3 linked regions of the Homo sapiens genome follow. The protein of the gene in region 2 interacts with the protein of the main gene of each other region in a biochemical or structural test. Each region holds a gene or a part of one and is shown on either strand. Other genes may lie near its edges.

Region 1 (7,115 bases), on a different chromosome or scaffold from region 2:
GTCCTGGTAATTTCCCAGCTATGTTTAGTTTCATATTATTGTTTGACCAGTGGTAGATCACCCCCAAGTTAGTGGTCCTAGTCTATTCTACCAATTCTAAAGTCATACATGATGGATAGCTTATAGTTTTTTTTTGTTTGTTTGTTTGTTTTTTTGAGACAGAGTCTCGCTCTGTCGTCCAGGCTGGAGTGCAATGGTGCGATCCTGGCTCACTGCAACCTTTGCCTCCCGGGTTCAAGCCATTCTCCTGCCTCAGCCTCCTGAGTAGCTGGGATGACAGGTGCCCACCACCATGCCTGGCTAATTTATTGTATTTTTAGTAGAGACGGGGTTTCACTATGTTGGCCAGGCTGGTCTCGCACTCCTGATCTCGTGATCCATCCGCCTCGGCCTCCCAAAGTGCTGGGATTAGAGGCATGAGCCACTGCACCCGGCCTGATGGATAACTTCTTAAATATTTCGATTTCTATGGAAAATAAAAGACAGAATGAAAGAACGATACCTAGGAAAAGTTGTCTCAGGATAGTGTTAAAGACCGCTGTGCAACTATAAAGTAGCCATTTGGATTACATGTTCCCATTTAAGAACTGTGCCTTAGATTCTTTTTTCTGCTATTGTTGAGACAGAGTCTCCCTCTGTTGCCCAGGCTAGAGTGCAATGGCACAATCTTGGCTCACTGTAACCTCTACCTCCCGGGTTCAGGCGATTCTCCTGCCTCAGCCTCCTGAGAGGCTGGGATTACAGGCGCCCACCAACATGCCAGGCTAATTTTGTATTTTAGTACAGATGTGGTTTCACCATGTTGGTCAGGTTGGTCTCGAACTCCTGACCTCAGATGATCCACCCACCTCGGCCTCCCAAAGTGTTGGGATTACAGGCATGAGCCACTGCACACAGCCCTGTGCCTTATATTCTTATATCTGCAACTAGCAGAAGTGTGCGAAATCACATACATATTTAGAAAAATCATGTGATACCATGACAAACCTGTCATTACCTCCTTTCCAAATCCACCTGCAATTCAGTAAAGGAAAAAGGAGCTTCAAAGGAGCAAGACATGAGGAGTGATCAGAAAGGATCTTAATATAGGGCAGTGGTAGTAACATGGTTAACCATTTGGAACTGCTGGTCAAGTGATGGTGTTTGAGATAGAGGAAGGCCAACAGCCAGAAAATTTCACGATGAAAGAGACACTAAAATGTTTTGATATGTTTAAGGACCGGGCGTGGTGGCTCACGCCTGTAATCCTAGCACTTTGGGAGGCCGAGGCTGGCGGATCACTCGAGGTCAGGAGTTCGAGACCCGCCTGGCCAACATGGTGAAACCCTGTCTCTTCTAAAAATACAAAATTAGCTGGGTGTAGTGGGGCATGTCTGTAATCCCAACTGCCCGGGAGGCTGAGGTGGGAGAATAGCTTGAATCGGGGAGGTGGAGGTTGCAGTGAGCCGAGATCGCGCCACTGCACTCCAGCCTGGTAACAGAGCAAGACTCTGTCTCAAGAAAAAAAAGAAAAGAAAAAGAAAAAAAGCTTGCAGTTCCATAAATTCATGAAATAGTTCTTAAAGCTTCTTATTCATGTAAGGTCTCATCCCAATACAGACATTTGTTATAATACCAAAAATGCTTTCCTGAAAAATCTTACTTTCTGCAAGATACATAAAAATAAGAGGTGCTTATGCAATCAACAGGATTAAGGGATAGACCATTCAAAACCTACAGAACATTATAACCAGGACAAAATAAAACCAGTACCATTTCTAATAAAAATACTACCTTTGAATCTCTACTAGCATAACCTTAAACCCCAGGGCTTGTCCTTTTTCCTTGAGATGTAGTCTTTAAAAGCACTGCTTCTCATAAACCGTTTTAATCAAAATAAAAAATCAGATCCATGACATAGCCTTCTTCATCAATCCATTGTTTTAACATAGGGAGAATGTAGCTTCTTCATGTGCATTTTTCAGCTTTCTCAGACAGCTTAACTTCAGGGGCTTCCCGCTGCACTTACAATAGAACTCAAGGTCTTACTTTTTGTGGTCCAGAACAGCGCTGTCCAACAGAACTTTCTGTAATGATAGAAATGTCCTATATCTGCACTATCTAAAATGGTAGCTGCAGCCACATGTGATGATTGAGCACTTGAAATGTGGTTAGTGCAACGGAGAAACTGAATTTTTATTTAATCTTACTTTATTTTAACTCAAATTTAAATAGCCACATGTGGTGAGTGACTAACACATTGGACAATACAGCTCTAGGGCTTATCTTCTTACCAACTACACTATGTCTTGCAATTTCTTGCCATCTAGGTAGCCAACATGAGGAGGTCTATAAGATATCCCACCACACACACCCGCATCCACATTACTTTTTCATTCTCATTTTTCATGACGCTCCCACTCTTTGTCTACTTTCTGATTATGATTTTTAAATTCCTCTAATATGCCATTTTATTTCTATCTTCTGGGCCGAAGAAACATGCTGTTCTCTCTGCCCTCCTCGCCCTAATCCTTAACCTAACTTCTACTCATTTTTCAGGTCTCAGCGAAAGGGTCACTTTCTCCAAAAAGCCTCCGCTAACCCCCGACAACCTATATTAGGTTCTTCCCACTCTTCTGTTGTCTGCCTAGAACTCTTTTCCTTGCTAACACTTAAAATTTGTGATCGTCAGTTTATCTATGTTTACCGACTTTCTTGACTGCAGAAACTGAATCTGTTTTGTTTACCACTGCATCTTGGTACCTAACGGAGTGCTTGGCGCACAGTATTTGTGAGATGGAAAAATGAGAGACTGGGCCACATCATCAGGACATCCGACCTCCACCAACCAGAACTTAAAAATCCTCCTAGCCATACCACAAGGCAGATCCGCGTCCTCGCTCCCCAAGCAAAGTTGGCCTCAACTGATCTGGAGCAAGGACGCCTCAGCTCAGTACGCCGCTCCCTCCCTCCTCTCCAGCCAGGGAAGGGATGCCTACGTAACCTCGGCTTCATCCCTTCTTCAAAGGGGAATGAGGCAGCGGTAGAGCCACAGTGCGCATCGGCCACCACATACCTTAGACATCGAGGACGTAGCCATGGTCTTACTGACTCTGCGTATTCCAGATGCACTCGGGATTTCCCGCGCGCCCTCGCGGCTGCAGGGCAGAGGTTAGTGGCGAGCCACACGGCTCCTTGATTGGCTGGCATCACCCTCCGGGGCGGGTTTCCGGCGCGGGGAGGCGGGTCGTATAAGGAGGTGGGGCGAGGCCGGAACTGGCGGACTGCGGCGCACTTCCGTAGAGGTGGACATGGCGTGCGGCTTTCGCCGCGCTATTGCTTGCCAGGTATGGATCCCGGAGCGCGCAGAGGAGTCCCTGAGGAGCTAGGGACCCCAAAGGCCTTTCACCGCTGCGGGCCAGTCCTCAGTCAGCTGGAGGGTGGGTCCCACGGAATCCTGTTAGTTTCTACCACCTCCTCCCCCTTCTCTGGAGCTGGTGGAGCTTCAGAAGTCCTGTGGAGCGTCGGCTGGGATCAGTTTGTCTCGGTGAAAAGTAAACTTTGAAAGGTACCTGGTGCTTTCTTCTCTCCTTCCCACCCCACAGCTATGAATGCTTTACCTGGGTGGCGGCAAGTCATTAGACCATGATTAGACCCCATAGAAGTTAGTGTTCTTTACACTTTAGTGACATTGATGATGGATCTGGATTGTTCTTCAGAAGGACCTCATTTTAAAGCTGCTTATTTCTCTTGCAGTCACTTAGGCAGCCTACCCTAGAATTGTTTTTGGTAACGCCCAAAGATATAAGAGCTATCTGAGACTCAGTTTTTCTTGGTTCAGGGTCGTATTTGAACAGCTCTGTTGTGAGGAAGGGCTTACAAAATTGCAATATAATTGCTTTGTTTTGTTTTTCCTTTTTGTGGAGAACGGGGTCTCGCCGTATTGCCCAGGCAGGCCTCAAACTCCTGGGCTCAAGCTGTCCTCCCTCCTCTGCTTCCCTAAGAGCCGGGATTACAGGCCTGAGCCACCGCGCTGGGCAAAATTGCAGTATAAATGTGGAATTAATCAAAAAGAATTTTTAAGACTCATTGGCCACCCTTGCAAGGAAACTTTCTATTGTGGTCTTGGCTAACCCATTTCCTTCTGATTAATGGATGTACTAGTGGACGTAATTAGCCTGGTGTATAATTTATCTTGGCTCATTTTTACAGTATTTCTAGACATTTGTGGGGAAATCCCTCTGCCTTGTCTTTATGTTTATAGATGTACTGCCCTGTCCGGTGATAATTCGCCAAATATCACCAACATGACATTTTGTTAAGACAGCTGAATTTATTGCTCACTGGGATAAGGAAGAACACCACTGAGAGCTTTGGTAGTGTATTAAACTGGGAAAGCAAGGTCAGATTTTACTGATGGGTATGGCTTAAGGCTGGTCTTTCAGAGGGAGAGGGTAGGAGGGTGTTGGAGGAAGATGGCTTGATTAGGGTTGGACTCTGATCTGATACAGCGGTTTAAGATTGATAGGAAAAGCAAAGAGTGCAAGAAGCCTTAAGGCATAAACTATTGAGGTTTTCTATTGGAAGAACTAATAGGCCTGGCATGTGGTTCATGCCTATAATCCCAGCACTTTGGGAGGCCAAGGTGGGAGGATGGCTTGAGCCCAGGAGTTCGAGACCAGCGTGGACAACATAGGTAGACCCCGTCTCAACAAAATTTTTTTTAAAAAGTAGCCAGGCATGATGGTGCACCTCTGTAGTCCTAGCTGCTTGAAAGGCTGAGTCTGGAGGATCACTTGGACGGACCCACGAGTTTGAAGCTACAGTGAGCTATGATTGTGCCACTGCACTCCAGGGTGGGTGACAGAGCGAGACCCTGTAAACAAAAAATAAAAATAAAAAACGTGAAAAGCTAATAGATTTCTCATGAAGTTCTTATAATGAATGATTAAGTTATTTGGGCAGAAGTCTTCTAGAACAGTAAAGTTATGCTAATGAAGACAAAAAATAATAAATTCATGTTAATGTAGACAGTAAACCATATCAGGGAAGGTAGTTTTGGACCTTAGTATCTAAGCTGTGTGTAAGGGTGGACGTTTTCCATTCTTAGCCCTTAAGTAAAGATAGTGCCATGATGAGAAACAAATTGTGTTTAGTTTTGCAAAGGCTGTGTTCTTTGTAAAGACTGTAAATTGGACCAGGCATGGTGGCTCACACTTGTAATCCCAGAACTTTGAGAGGCCGAGGTGGGAGGATCCCTTGAACTGAGACGTTCAAGACCAGCCTGGGCAACATAGGGAGACCCCCATCTCTATAAAGAAATAAAAAACAAAACTTAGGTGTAGTGGCACACACCTGTGGTCCCAGCTGCTTGGGAAGCTGAGGTGGGAGGATCGTTTGGGCCCAGGTGGCTGAAACTAGCAAGCTTTGATTGCACCGCTGCACTTCAGCCTGGGGGACAAAGTGAGTCCCTGTCTCAAAAAAAAGAAAAAGATAAGTTGGAGAAACAAGAACTAATATATTGAGTATATATTTGTGCTAGTTACTACACATTCACATTTAAGCTCATGGCAACCCTGTGATATAGAAGTATTAACCTTATTATATAATTGAGTCAGTTGAGATCCACAGAGATTAAATAACTTACCCAAAGCCACATCATCAATACATTGTAGAGTTGGTTTATGAACAGAACTCTAACTTTAAAATTAGATCTTTCCTATATACTGTGCTCTTTGTGAAAGCAAGAAGCACAGTCCAATCATTGAACAGAATCTAATGGATTTATACAGCAGTGTAAATTATGCAGATATATATGTATTTCTCTGAATATAGAGTCATTGGGGAATGATCTGAAACTTGAGGATAAATAATAATATTTTCAATACGTTAGGACATGGGGAAAAAAGAGCAAAGAAAAAACATGTTCCGTACAGTTTGAGCATCCCTAAGCTGGAAATCTGAAATGCTCCAAAATTTGAAACTTTTTGAGTGCTGACATGAGACTCAATGTTCATTGAGTTCATTGGAGCTCAATTGGAAATTGGAAATGTTCATTGGAGAATTCCAGATTTTCAGATTAGGAGCTGGGTATGGTGGCTCATGCCTATAACCCCAGCACTTGGAGAGACTGAGACAGGCAGATCACTTGAGCCCAAGAGTTCAAGACCAGCCTGGGAAACTAATTAGAAAATTAGTTGGGCATGGTGGCACCCTCCTGTAATCCCAGATACTTGGGAGGCTGAGGTGGAAGGATCACTTGAACCTGAGAGGTGGAGGTTGCAATGAGCCAAGATTGTGCCACTGAACTCCAGCGTGGGTGGTAAAGCAAGACCCTGTCTCAAAAAATAAATAAATAAATAAATAAATAAATAAATAAATAAATAACCAACCCCACAGATTTTCAGTTTAGGGATGCTCAACAGGTAAGTATAAAGCCAATATTCCAAAATCTGAAAAAATTCAAAAGTTGAAACACTTGTGGTCCCAAGGATACCCAGCCTGTATTTAATACCTTTGCGAATGAGCATCGTTTTGCTATAATAGTTTAGGAATGAAGGAATGTGTAACGTGCAATGGCAAATGCATTTAGCTAACTTTGATTAATTAGTCGACAGTTTTCTAAGCACTGTCATCAGTCCCAAGGCTAAAAGTGAACGGAAAATAGTTTCTGCCCTGAAATGGCCTCAGACATGCTTGGAAAACGATGTAAACCGGTAATTGCATTGCAGCCTGTAATCACTGTATTAGAAGCATGTGCAAAGTGCCAAGGGAACTTGAAAGCTCCTAAGGGTCAGACAAAGTTTTGTAGAAAGGTGATGTTAGGTCTCAGTTTTGAAAGGGATATGGGTAGGAGTGTGCCAAGTAAATAGAGTGAGAGCTTGGGGAGAGGTCAGGTATTGCAAGAGGAGGATGTGCATAGACACAGACATCTGGAAAGCATGATATGTACATAGAATCACAATATTTGGATTCCTTTCTTCAGCAAGTCCTGTTGATTTTATCTTTATATCTTGAATCCATCTACACTATTGCTGCTGCCTCCCCCTCTCCTTTCTCTATTCCACACCAAGCCCCCATTATCACCTATATTGACTGCTTACAACAGCCTTCTGATGGGGTGTTTGTTTCCATTC
Region 2 (7,113 bases):
TTTAATAACTGTTAGCTTTTACTATAGCCATTGAGGCCAGCCCTCAAACTGAGGAAACCAGCCTTTTCCAGTAATTGTTCTTCCCAGTTGCTTTGTGAGGCTGGAGCACTTCAAAATGAAGATTTGCATTCCCAACCAAATGAGACCTGTTTGTTCTGGAAATTGCCACAGTACATCCAGAATTTTCAGCTGGTTCCATGTCTCTTTTCTTTTTTATAGTGAAAGCAAATTCAGTATGATTGTGCTGCTCACCCTCCTACACGTATTATACTGTGAGATACTAAAACTGGCGTGTCCTCAGGTTCGCTTCTGCTTCCCTGACATAGAGCATCTCTGGCCACTTCTAAGAATGTTCCTAAGGTCCTTCGTGCCTAGCTCTTTTTTAAAGATAATTGTTCTTGTGCTACTGTTACCATATGTCCCCAGATCTCACAGTCAGCATCTTCTCTTTTGATTATTCAACAGAATTAAGGACCATTATCCCTGGAGGGTCACAAGGTGGATACCATGAAGGGGGAGAGATGAGGGCAGGGCATTAAATCTGAAGAGATAGATGCCAGTGGGGATGGAGAGGAAGGAGAGAGAGCCCAGGTATTCACCTGTTAATGCTTTGTCTTTGCACTTAAAATTGGAAAATTTACACCTCTGTCTCTACTTCAGTTTTAAAGGTGAATTTTCTCTACCCAATAATGTTTTTAGTTACTTTGCCAATATTGTAAGTAAGAGCTCTATGTGGCCTGAAGAAGTTAGGTACCATCCCATGGGATGATTTACGCATAACATATTTTCTTACCTATTCTTCCCTGTTTTTTTTTTGTTTGTTTGTTTCTTAAACTAGTGGGCCAGCAAGCAGAAATGTAGTAATGATCTATCCCAGAGTATCTGTTAAGTGACATTTTGATAGTGCCACCAGGCTGTTACAAACCAGTTTACCTCTAGATAATTCCAGGGTTTATCTTTTCAATTGGGACTCAAGCTGTGAAACCAAATTATGGCATGTAATACTTTTTATTGGCCGTGCATGCATTTTGCCATGAGTGAAAGCCAAATGTGGCCCGCAGTTGGTTTTATGAAAGGGTGAAGGAGATTCTCAAGAGAAATGCAAAGCAACTAATGCTTTTCAGCATTAATGTATCATATTCAGTTATTTCTCATTCGACTATGAGTCCAGTTTTGGGTCCTACCCTTTAAGATAAACAATAAACCAGAGTATTTTGAAAACATTTGGGGGAGAATGAAATTGGGATTGGAATGTAGGTGGACTGGAATAGTGCTGGAATGAATGGATATGATAGGGAATCTTTAATTAAAATATTTTTCATTTGGAAGGGACTCAAGCCTTGTGTGGCTCCATAAAATTATGATTTCTACTTAATATTAAGGGCAAGTGTTCTGGCTGAAATAACCAGAAATGAAATCAGCTTCCTTATAATGCAGGAGTTCCTGTGTCTTGGAGTATCCTCTAGTAGACTGACTGTTTCCCATAAGGAATGCTATCAAAAGGATCCCTTCTTTCAGGGATGCCTCTCTTCTTCTCACCCATATTGTTTATTTAAAATATTGAAAATATAGGGCTAGAGACAAAGCCTTATGCAACTTAGAGTCCTCACTCTAGGATGACAAAATTCATTAATCACTGTTCACTTGGAGCTGTTGATTGATCAGCAAGTCATCCACGTCAGTACATGGAGCCCATGTTTGAGTCCTGATTGCCTCTCAGTTCCCAAGAGTGGATTTAAGAACCAGCCTTGTACATAATTGTCATAAGTAATTTGCTTTGAAAAAAAGCCATATGGACTGCAAGTTCTACATTTTTCTCTTTTTTCCAGTTGAAAATAAGTTTGAAGGATTCACTTTCAGAAAAGTATAACAATATTGCATTTTATACATAGTGTATAATAAGTTAATTCAAAAATCGTAGATGTATCCTAGTAATTATCAGGGTTGGTATGTAATAGCTGACATACTTACTTGACAAGTACAATTCCAGTTTATCCCAAAGCATTTCTGGTAGGGATGAAGGTAGAAGAGAAGAGATGTATCATCTCTCCTTTTACCTAGACAGGAATGGGGAACCAGTTCTATAGGCATTAAGTGACTTATTTCACACAGGTTTTTTTTTTTTTTTTTTCCTTAAGTTATAGGACCTAAATTCTGGCCCAGAACCAGGGATTTCTTAAAACATAACCAAGAGCTATCCAGGAATTTTATTTTGGAAAGTTTCCAAATTCCTAATGTTGAAGTAGTGGTGCCCCTACCATAGTCATTTTTACACTGAAGACTAATCCTTTACATAGTCTTTCCAGGTCTTCACTAGAGAAACCGATAAAGTTTTGACAAGGTGCAAGAAAGAATAATATTCTTTCTAGAAGCACAGTTGGCTCTTGTCTCTAGTGAGGGGAGGATGCCAGAAGAGCAGGGGAGTTGGTTTTATAATAGATATAATTGCAAGACCAGTTGGTAAAGTTCATCAATACCGTCTTCACTCCCATCACCTCCATCAGTGTCCAGGATCTCACTTCCTTCAGGCACATCGTCCTGTATTTATTTCTCCCAGATTATTGTTCACTAACCCTGCTCCAAGGAAGAAAGAACTGTTTCTTAGTTGAAAGAACACATGATTTTGCAGTTGAATCACATTGAGTACAAATGCTAGCTCTACCATTTATAACCTGTATCATTATTTCTTAGAGTCTCAGTTTCCACAACTGAAAATGGATTTGATACAACAGCCCCACTAGCTTATTAGTAAGATTCCTTTGACTATACCATACTAGTGGTTCTCAACTAGGTGGAGGTAGATTTTGTCCCCCAGGGACATGGGGCAGTGTGTGGAGACATTTCTCATTGTTTTCAAGGGGCTGCTACTGGCATCTAGTGGGTAGAGCCCAGGGATGCTGCTAGCCAGACATCCTGTAATATGCAGGGAACCGCCTAAAACAAGACTTTCTTCAGTCCAAAATGTTAGTAATGTCAAAGTTGAGAAACGCTGTTTGAAGCCAATGTGTAACTCCTAGTGGGTAAGTCTAGGATGATATGGATATTAATGAACAACAGCCTTAGGCATGTCTCTGCCCAAGTATACTTGCTTTTTTAAGAAAGGGGATTTGGTGGTAGAGTGGACTCTCTTAAGACTGGAACATCTTTAAAAGAAATGAAATATCAGAGTAACAGATTGTAAGGTTAATATATCTGCCCCAAGAACTGCCCCCTCAGGCCCATTCCAGTAAGAAGAGCCCATCCTTTACACCTGGGGGATATACCCTAGGGCAGGAGTCTCCAGTCTCAGTCAGGTACTGTTCAGTCAGTGGCCTATCAGGAACCAGGACTGCACAGCAGAAGGCGAGCAGGGAGTGAGATAGTATTACCACCTGAGCTCTGCCTCCTGTCAGATCAGAGGCAGCATTAGATTTTCATAGGAGCATGAACCCAAATGTGAACTGTGCATGCAAGGGATCTAGATTGTGTGCTCCTTAGGAGAGTCTAATGCCTGATGTTCTGAGGTGAAACCCCCCAGTCTGTGGAAAAATTATCTTCCACGAAACCAGTCCCTAGTGCCAAAAAGGTTGGGGACCGCTCCCTAGGATACCACTTTACTATGCTTACTCCAGATGAGTTTGGAATTGTATGTCACTTACCATTGCCATTTTTTTGTCTTGCATTTTTATTTCATGAGTACTGTTTTATTGCCACGGGTCTCATTTGAGAGTAAATTGGATAGAAAGTCTAATAATGTGACAAATGATGACCTTTTTTTTTTTGTCTTGGGAAGATCTTATTAAAGAAAATTATGTGTGTGTTTTGTTCTACCCAGAGCAGGATCTGGGTAGAAGAGGATGGGTGCTAGATTCTTTGTGTTTTGCTACCACAGATTACAGTCAAATATATAACAAGTAACTTGTTTTAGTAGTTCTTTAGAAATTTCTATTCTCGTAAGATAAATTCATTGAGTTGTCTAGAAATCATCATCTGATAAATACTCATTCCAATATTCATTTCCAAAGAAATGAATTAGTCACCTGTTTCCGAAATCTTCCCAACACAAAGGTGGTGATAATACCAGGTATCCAAAGGTGCAGAAAACTTTCCTGTGGGTGACATTGTTAATGACTCTTAGCAGACAGAGCCAAGCAGTCGGCCTGTGGTGGTGGTTCTGTATCATTTTGTCATATTAAATGGGGAGGTTAAACTTTTGCTTTTTTACAGTTTGACAGTGGCTGTTGACCTTTTGCTGCTTGAAGCACTTTTAGGATTGTTATCTCAGCCTTTCATTATAGTACATCAAAATTCACTTTTATTAATCTTGCAGTTGTTAGAGATGAGAAGGACACTCACCCTATTGTCAGTGAGCCTGAAATCTAATAAGGAAGACAGGATGTAAGCAGTTTCTAAGTACAGCACAATGCAGAAAGAGGTGAACATTAAATAAATGAACAGAGAGTGCCCTATCAAAGACTTGGTTAATTCTGAAAAAGATTAATGAAGGGCTTGCAGAGGAGGTGGCATTTTATTTGCATCTTAAAAGGAGGGAAGGAATTTTTTTTTTATTACTGTCAGGAGGATGGAGAGACCAGGAGGATATATCAAGCTGAGAAATGGAAGCTCTATAAATAGGGAGCCCCATAAACAGGGAGCCCCCAGTGTTCATATTCTTATTGGTGAACATAAGTAGACCTGTGAGGTTGAAGTGTGCATTGTGTCAAATATTGAAATGGTAGGTCAAGGGAAATGGCTGTTTAAGAATTAGATTATGTTCTTTGAAGGCTATACCTCGAACTATGAGCAGGAAAAAAATCATTACTGTTTTGTAGGAGAGGAGTGAAAGCTGCTTATTCATATTTTAGGAAGGTAGCTCTGGCATCATTGTGAAAGATGTACTGAAATGAACATTTGGAAGCTTGGGAGGTGGTCATTGCAGTAGATCAAAGACAAAAGAATGAGAACCTTAAATTCATTGGGGTGAAGATGCAAAGGAAAGGATAGATGAGAGGTGAAAGAATGTTTGGAGGTAGATTTGTCATGTTTTGACTATTCTGAGATGTACATTTTTTTTCAAATTATAACATCTCTGGAATCTGATTGTATCTTAACAATTGTAATTGACAGTTTTTCATTCTTAGTGATACATAAAATATTGGTGAATCTTCAAATCTGTGGCTTCTTAGACTTAATGTATAATACCAGCGTCTGGTGACAGTTTGGATGGTGAGGATAAGTAAAAAGAGTGATTCAGAGATAGCTCTGTTGTAGCTCAAGTGGAGAAGTAGTGATCTCATTAACTTAGGTGGGAGGGTGTGCAGGAAGAGGAGCAAGTGTGTAGTGGAGGCCAAATTATGGTTGAGGCAGCTGCAGGATCCTTATATGTAGTCGGCTCCTAGGCACTTGGATATAGTAATATTACCTTTTTTTTTTTTTTTGAGGGATTGCTATGTAGAAGTGTCTGTGCTGACATCCATTATATTATCTTAAACCTGAATGAAAAGGTTACTAGGTTAAGCCACAGTTTTCAGAGGCAGAAACTGATGCCCACAGTAGCTAAAGGGCTTACCCAAGGTCAGACTGCTCAATAAATGGCAGAACTGGAGTTGGCCCCAGGTTTGTCTGTCAGAGCCTAAGCTCTGCCACTTACTGACTCCAGTTACAGAGGGAGACTTGGGAGTTGTCAGCATAGAATAGATGTTAATGCCATGTGACACATGAGATTGAGAGAGAAAATAGAACACATCAGATAAGATGGCCCAGAACAAAACATTAGAGAAGGCAGTTATACCACCTTTAGTATCTTGACTATAAGCATCCCACTCTCTGATCCTGTTTCTATCATACTTATTCTCTACCATTACTTCAACCTCATGGAGACATTTTTGTTGACCCTATCACTTTTTCACTGTTATCATTACCGCTTGTGTACTTGTTTCCCTTATTATTCGTGGTCATTTGTTATCATCAGTCCCTGTCTCTTCCTCCTTGGCAAAACCCCAACTCTGGGTAAACCAAACTACTCATCTACTTCCTTCCTGAGTCTCCACAGCTAAATATTGATAAGAAAAATACACACCTACGTTAATTAATCTTACTTTGCATTAGAAACCACAGACCTGGAAAAGGAACTCAACAATGTATAGCAATCTGCTACCTATCCCTAGTAAATTAGCTTTCTCACTTTTCAAAATTACTGCTTTATTCTCCTGTCTTCTCAAATCTGTAACCCACTTCCCTTCTCGTTTTCAGCTGATAACTTCACCTCATATTTGATGACAAAAGATAAGCAGCTGAGATAGTGGGAACATGAATTTCCTCATTTTTCCATCCACAGATCTTCCAACCCCTTTGTGTTTGTTCACACACCCCCTATTTTCCCTTCTGTTGCAAAAGAAGACAAACCCTCACTCCTGTATGTGCCAAAATCTCCTTTTGTGCTTTGGATCCCTTTCCCCTCTTGACTTCTTAGGGACTTTGTTGCCTATCGCTGTAATACCCCCATCACTCTTCATCCATCACTAATATCCTCTCTTTATCATTCCCATTGGTATTCCTAACCGTCGTCTCATTTTTATGCTCTCTCCTTTACAGCAAAACATGAAAGAATTGTCTGTATTTTCTGTCTTCACTTCTTCATCTTTCATTGTCTCTCAACCTCCAGTCAGGTTTCCATCCCCAACATTCGCTGAAACAGTGCTTGTCGGTAACTGATCAGAGTGACTTCCAAGCAGTTAAATCCCATAGTCACATCTCAGTGCACATCAAACTCAATCTCACATCAATATTTTACTTATCTGGCCGCTGCCTCTCTCTTGAAAAACTTTCTTGCCTTGACTTCTGTGATATCATATTCTCCTTTCCTACATCACAGGACCCCTCCTTGTCAGTTTCCTCTGCTGGTTGCTCTTCCTCTTCCTTTGCTTGCTGGAGTGCCTTCTTTTCTCCAGCTGTTTTGTCCATTCATGAGATCTCCTCCAGTCCTATGGCCTTATATGCTCATGTCTTTTATGGCAGTGACTCAAAACCTGCCTTGTTGAACTTGTCCACTTAAAAATGGGCTTAGCATCACAAATTTAGCATGGCTAAAACAGAATTCTTGATTTTTACCTTGTGCGAAATCTGCTTTTCTTG
Region 3 (7,113 bases), on a different chromosome or scaffold from region 2:
GTTTGCATGGTTTAAAATTTTATATAAATGATATCATTTGGAACATACCTCTCTACCAATTGCTTTTTGAGATTTATCCATATAGATACATGTAGCTCTAGTCCATTTTTAAATTACCTTACAGAATTCCATTTTATGACTACTTAAAAAAATTCATTATTACAAATAATCCTGTGACTGATAATCTTGTACATTTCTCCTTGTGCACATGTGTGAGTTTCTCTAAGTAGGATTGCTGGATTAAAGCACAAGGCAGAGTCAGTGCTATGTGTCTGCCAACACTGTTTCTTCTCTGACACACAAGAAGACTACATTTCTCAGTCTCTCCTGCAGTTAGATAGAGGTCACGTAACTGGGTTCTGCCAGGCCAATGAAATATGAATAGAAGTGATGTAAACTACTTGCAAGCCTAGTCTTTCACCTTCTTTCCCTTTAGTGGCAACTTCAGAGGCCACAATGTTTCACTTCATATCACTATGAGATGAAAGAGGGTCACTCAATTCACAGTTATGTTGTAAGCAACATAAAAACTTCTGTTGTGTAAAGCCACCATGGTTTGGGGGGTTTTGTTTTGTTTGTTTGTCTGTTTGAGAAGGAGACTCACTCTGTTGCCCAGGCTGGAGTGTAGTAGCGTGATCTCGGCTCACTGCAAGCTACGCCTCCCAGGTTCACGCCATTCTCCCGCCTCAGCCTCCCAGGCAGCTGGGACTACAGGCGCCCACCATCATGCCCGGCTAATTTTTGTTTTTGTATTTTTAGTAGAGCCGGGGTTTCACCATGTTAGCCAGAATGGTCTCGACCTCCTGACCTCGTGATCCACCCGCCTCGGCCTCCCAAAGTGCTGGGACTACAGGTGTGAGGCACCCCGCCCAGCCGGGATTTGCTTTTTACTACAAGCATAGCTAGTCTATCCTAATATTAACATATTAACTTCACATATTAACTTCAGTAGATATTGTCAACCTGCAGAACAGGCAGACTCTCGCTCTTCTACATTATCTCCAGCACTTGAAATCATAGAATTTTTTAGTTTTGTCAAACCAAGAGTATGAAATATCTCACTGTTGTTTTAACTTTTTCTCTCATTAGTGAATAAGGCTGTTAATCATGTCATGATTGTTAGACATTCAGGTTCCTTATTGTATCATTTATCCATTTTGCTATCGAATTTTTGTCCTTTTCTTATTGGTTTGTAATGAGTCTTTAAAAATTCGAGACATTAGGTTGGGCATGGTAGCTCATGCCTGTAATCCCAGCACTTTGGAAGGCTGAGAGGAGTGGATCATTTGAGACCAGCCTCGAACTCCTGGGCTTAGATGAGTCCCTGGTGAAACCCTGTCTCTACAAAAAATACAAAAATTAGCCAGGCACAGTGGCGTGTGCCTGTAGTCCCAGCTACTAGGGAGGCTGAGACAGGAGGATCACTTAAGCCCAGGAGGTTGAGGCTGCAGTGAGCCATGATCACGCCATTGCACTGCAGCATGGGTGACTGAGACCCTACCTCAAAAACAGATAAATAATAAAAATTCTAAACGTTAACCATTTGTCTATTGTAGGAGTTCAAGAACAGTGGTAAACATCATCGTAGGCTTTGGAGTCAGGAAGTCCTGGAATTGAGCAAAACTGCCTCTAAGAATAAGGGAAACAAAACTTGCAGTTTCTATAGTGCAGAGTTTATATTTCAAAATTCTCCATCTTCTGACAAGAAAAGCAACAGTGGTTTGGACATACAAAGTGGAAGAAGTGATCTAAATAGTCTAAATGCTTCTTTCACCAGTTTCAACCTTATCTGACCCCACCTTCAAAAGTACTTAGTGCTTCTAATCCCTAAGCTTTTTTCCAGATTCCTAAGGCCAAATTAGCTAAGTTTGAGGCTTAGGTTTTAGCGTTTTCTCTAATCTGCTTGGTCACCTCAATATCTACCTACCATGCAATTGCAAATTCTGGGGGTCTCTCATCTGCTTAGTATTTATGAGTTTACCTTTTTTATTTGTTGTGGGTGCTTCAAAGGGGAAAGAAAAGAGGAAAATGCCTGTATTCAATTGGCTGTATTTAACTAAATAATCCAGGGTAAACTTCTTCATCTACTAAGTCACTAAAAAACTTTGTCAACTCAGTTTTAAACTCCAGCAGCAGCTCACCTAAATGTGCATTCAATCACTATATTCAATATAACAAAATTCTATTACAGTATAACGGTACCATATCAACACAAATAAGTTCCTATATTCAAATGACAAATACAATTACAGATGTATCTATTTCCTATATTATCTTCATTTCCTAAGTTTCTTCCATTAGAAATTAAAATGTAAATACCTTTTCGTGTTTTTTTAGAAAGTTGGTTTTCTTGATTTTTCCATGATGCTGCAATTAAGGAAAACAAATTTTAAGTTGAAAAGACAGTATTCCACAAAACCAGAAAACGTTATTTATTTAAAACATGGCACACATAATACTAATCTGTATATCTCAGGTTTTTAAATAGTTATTCTTCTTATCACCTTGTATATATATTAGACTTCAACATATTTTAGGCCAATTTCGTTTAGACTTGGATTGGATATAAAATTACTTTTGCATGTAAAAAAAGAATTTCTAAAATAAAATAATGACATTTCCTAAAAGAGCTTATTATATTGATTTAGTTCAGCATATACATTGCTATAAAAATGAAACTTCCAGAGATATGGATTTTTATTCATCCCATAAGTCTGGCAATCCACATAATAAACGCTGACGGAGGGCATTTTAGTTAAGCACAGTTCACATAATAAACACTGATTGAGAGCATTTTAGTTAGGCACTCAGGATTCAATAGCAGGGGAAAACAATAGATGTGGTCCTTGCCCTCTAGAAACTAAAGAGGGTCAGGTACAGTGGCGCACACCTGTAATCCTATCACTTTGGGAGGCCGGAGTGGGAGGATGACTTGAGGCCAGGAATTTGGGACCAGCCTGGCCAACATGGCAAAACCCTGTCTCTACCAAAAACATAAAACTTAGCCAGGCGTGGGGGCACACACCTGTAATCCCAGCTACTTGGGAGGCCGAGGCTGTAGTGAGCCAAGATCACACCACTGCACTCTGGCCTGGGTGAGAGTGACACTCTGTCTCAAAAAAATAAAAAAAAATAAAGTCCTGAAGAGTAGCACAAGACATGACAAAAAAATGAATAAATATAAATTGTTGTAAGTCCAAAGAAGAAAGCAAACATCATGTGAAATAGGAAACAATAAAGAGGACCTACTTTAAGATAGGTTGTACAGGGAGAACTGCTTTGAGAAGGCAATATTTAAACTGAAGCATGAAGAATGAGTAGAGAAGGAGCTTTCCAGAAAGACAGAACATACAGACAAAGACCTTAAGGTAGGAAAGAGATCAGAATGTTTTGAGGAAAGAGGAAAAAGGAAAAAGTCTAAAGTGACAAGAACATAGTGGGTAAAGAAGAAGAAAAAAACAACTCTAAACTGGGATTTCTCCAACTAATGTATGTACAGGAGAGGCTCCTTCAGTGTGATGGATAATTATTCACTACAGTGAGTTTTAGAACAACAAAGAGTTACCGCTCTTAAAATTATTTCCATCCTCCACACTTTAAACAAAACCCTATGTATTTTTTAAATCTGAATTATTACCTAAGGTATACCTGATATCCTCTTTTCTATGAAACTGCCTACCTTTTCTCAAATTTGAGGTTGTGACATTAATGTAAAGCCTTTAAAGAATGAGTCCTAAATACATATTTGGCAATCTTATTCTAATCTCTTCCCCTTAGAAATTTACAAGTGTTAAGAAATTTCAAAATATTCCTGGGATCTTAAAAAATAAAGTGAAAAGAAGTATGTTATTATTACCTTAAGAAAAAACCTCTTGTCAGTTCTTGCTGGATTGTATGAAGCAAGGTATGCAGCAATTAGAATGAACTTAGAGTAATATGGAAGTTCCACATGAGTATGCGCTGAGAGGCCTATATAACAAAACACTTTGATGAAGTACTTATTAGGCTAACATTGGGTTTTAAGTATCTCTTCTCACTTGACTTTTCATTTCCATATGGTATTCTCTAGTCAAAATGACCTATTTCCTTATTTTAAAAAGTGTCATGATAATGATGGTCGTGGTGGTGATCAACACTATTATTAATGACAGGCTTTACTCAATCTATTATTTTTGCTTGGCTCTTCTCATTCTGAAGTCTAAATCCTACTCGTTCTTCTCTTCAAGGCCACGCTCTCCATTAAACCCCTGGTGTTCCCCTACCACACCAAAATAGAGAAACTTATTTCTACTATGAATTCCTACTCTGAGTATTCCCACATAACGTGATGCCTTATATTAACAGTTAACTGTACAGGTTGAGTATACTTTATCTGAAATGCTTGGGACCAGAAGTGTTTTGGATTTTTTCAGATGTTAGAATACTTGTATATGCCAGTTGAACATCCCTAAATTCTGAAAAATCAAAGAAAACAAGCATTTCCTCTGAGCTTATGTCAGCACTCAGAAAATTTTGGAGCATTTTCTATTTGGAAGTTTTGGATTCAGAATGCTTAACCTGTACATAAATCATACCCCTTAGTAAACAATACTATTTGTTGAAGGAGCTATGTCTAATGTTTTTTTGTATCCCTACACTGCCTTGCACATAGAAAATAACTGATGAATGGATAAATATTAAAACAGTAGGGTCATTCAAGTAGCACTGATTCTTAAGGGAAGGGAAGGAATCTGATATTTACTGAAAATCTACTATGTGTCAGACACTGTGTTAGGTGCTTTACTTAAGCATCACTTTGAATCTTTGCAGTAATGCTAAATATTCTTCCTATCTCACAAGTGAAAAATTGAGCTGGGTTCAAGGTCAAACAGATAGAAAGTAGTGCAAATCAATTATTACAGATTTGTTCTAACTCTGGCATCTATCCCTTTTCCTAAAAACACACAACTAGAAGTCACTTGTAAAGCATCTGGAACACATAAAAACCAAAAAAACACAAAACAGCACTATTTCATACCATTTTCTTTAACCATCAGCCACTGACTTTTAAAAAAAAATTTTTTTTCAATATTTGCTCATTTTTTTAAGTAAAATTAGTTCTATTTAATATTTGGGATGAATCCAAAGTAGTAGTTTTCTTAAACAAAAGCACAATGTTTTCAAAACATAACCACCAAAGTGCATATCCCAAACCGATTAACATAAAATTACATTTTATTCCATAAAACTCATGAAATATAAACATAATGAGATAAAACTGTCACATAATTAGATTGCTTTAATAAAAGCATTTAAAGAAATAGAAACTGCTTGATTTTCATGATATAATCCAATATTTAGAAAATAGAAAGCTGGTATTCAAACTTTTATTTCCTCCCATTAAATTAGAGCTTCAGTTAAAGAAAAATCATTAATCAAAATAGCATTATAGCTTGAAAAGTAAATTCTCTTTTATAACACTATTTCCTGACTGAATGCTCTTTAGTATTAACTTTAGTATCTTGATAATTAGCTGAAGAAGTATCTCCGGTAACTGTCTCAATACTTCCTCTGATACCTTTCAGTTGCCCCGGATCTGTGTCATCTTTCTGTAGCTTTTCCCACTGGGAACTGAAAAAAAATAGAAGAGCAAAAATGAATTAAAAATAAATAAAATCAATATGGTGTACTTAAAACAGAGCCCTAGAAAAACTAAATTTTTTTATTTATTAACAAAACAGAAAAGAAAAATATATACATGCAATAAACATGTTTGTACCTGTACAAAATAATTTAATGTATATATTAGAATGTCATAAATTTATAAAGCAATACCTAGATATTAACTATTTTAATAATCTCTTTTACTATGATGACTGTTGTAGCTATCAAAAAACTTCACCCAGGCCGGGTGTGGTGGCTCATGCCTGTAATCCCAGCACTTTGGGAGGCCAAGATAGGAGGATCACATGAGGCCAGGAGTTCAAGCTCAGCCTAGGCAACATGGGGAAACCCCATCTCTATTAAAAATACAAAAATTAGCTGGGTATGGTGGCGCATGCCTATACTCCCAGCTACTTGGGTGGCTGAGGCACGAGAATCACTTGAACCTGGGAGGTGGACGTTGCAGTGAGCTGAGATTGTGCCACTGCACTCCAGCCTGGGCGAGAGTGAGCCTGTCTTTAAAAAAAACAACAACAAACAAAAAACCAATAAATACTACCACCTACCACTCGGTAAAACTCCCAATGTTCTAGTTACCGTATTAGATGCAATTGTCATATACTATTTCTAAACTCTATAGCAATCCCTCAAAGTAGGTATCACACCAGAAAACTGAGGCTCAAAGATTAAGTCACCCAAGGACATTTAGCCAGTCAATACTAGAGCTACGAGTCGAATCCTTGTAGGATGCTTGCAGAGTTCAAGGTATTTTAATTGCCCCATCCTGGACTTATTTGCAATTAAAACTGTTAAACAACCAAAACACTATTAAGAATATGAAGTGATTATGACACGACAAATTGAATTTATAAGGCAACACACTATAGTATAATGAGTAAAGAATGCCCTACGACAGTTTTAGCTGCATGACTTCGAAAAAATGAATAGTTTACTCATAAAAAAAAATAAGGCAGTTTGATGCAAAGGTGCTCACCAACTCTAAAACTCTCACAGAACTCTTAAAAATGAGCTAATTTACAGGGCTAATTTAAAAATAATGCCAGATTAGAACAATTAAATATCCAAAATCTGCATGAAGAACAGGGTGGAAGTGATAAGGATGAGTGTGGGCCTTCTTTGAGTATACTTTAAAAAAAGTAGTTTTAGCTTTTGAAGTATTCTTTGATGCCCATCTCTCACCTGTATAGCAATCAACAAGTTTAATTTTCCCCTTTCTCTTTTCCTTCTTTTCCCAATTTTTAAGTTGTAATATTCCTACCTTGTCAGAATACATAATATTTACATACTATTCTTCTACTCTTATTTCCACCTTAATTTTAGTTTGGAGCTAAGCTTAATTAAATTCAATGTTCATCATCAATCCTTTTGTTAGTTTCTCCAGTCATCTCTTTTTCACATCAAGGTCGTCCTAAGAAATGTCTTATGAGTAGTGTTCTCTGAGTTCTTCCA

The links.
Region 1: of the proteins of OBI1 (region 2) and ORC3, one has a biochemical effect on the other in vitro, tested with the Homo sapiens proteins (one study listed by BioGRID).
Region 3: of the proteins of OBI1 (region 2) and ORC5, one has a biochemical effect on the other in vitro, tested with the Homo sapiens proteins (one study listed by BioGRID).

What each region holds. Positions count from the first base shown.
Region 1 is NC_000006.12:87,586,133-87,593,247, reverse strand, and holds the start of ORC3 (origin recognition complex subunit 3), read right to left. Parts: upstream 3,114-7,115; 5' UTR 3,080-3,113; coding exon 3,056-3,079; intron 1-3,055. Other genes in the region: RARS2 (probable arginine--tRNA ligase, mitochondrial isoform 3 precursor), read left to right, coding at 3,291-3,326. UniProt on the Homo sapiens protein: Component of the origin recognition complex (ORC) that binds origins of replication. DNA-binding is ATP-dependent. The specific DNA sequences that define origins of replication have not been identified yet.
Region 2 is NC_000013.11:78,649,048-78,656,160, reverse strand, and holds part of OBI1 (ORC ubiquitin ligase 1), read left to right. Parts: intron 1-7,113. UniProt on the Homo sapiens protein: E3 ubiquitin ligase essential for DNA replication origin activation during S phase.
Region 3 is NC_000007.14:104,162,916-104,170,028, forward strand, and holds part of ORC5 (origin recognition complex subunit 5), read right to left. Parts: intron 5,611-7,113; coding exon 5,558-5,610; coding exon of another isoform or gene 5,460-5,557; exon of another isoform or gene 5,274-5,459; intron 3,970-5,273; coding exon 3,857-3,969; intron 2,368-3,856; coding exon 2,320-2,367; intron 1-2,319. UniProt on the Homo sapiens protein: Component of the origin recognition complex (ORC) that binds origins of replication. DNA-binding is ATP-dependent. The specific DNA sequences that define origins of replication have not been identified yet.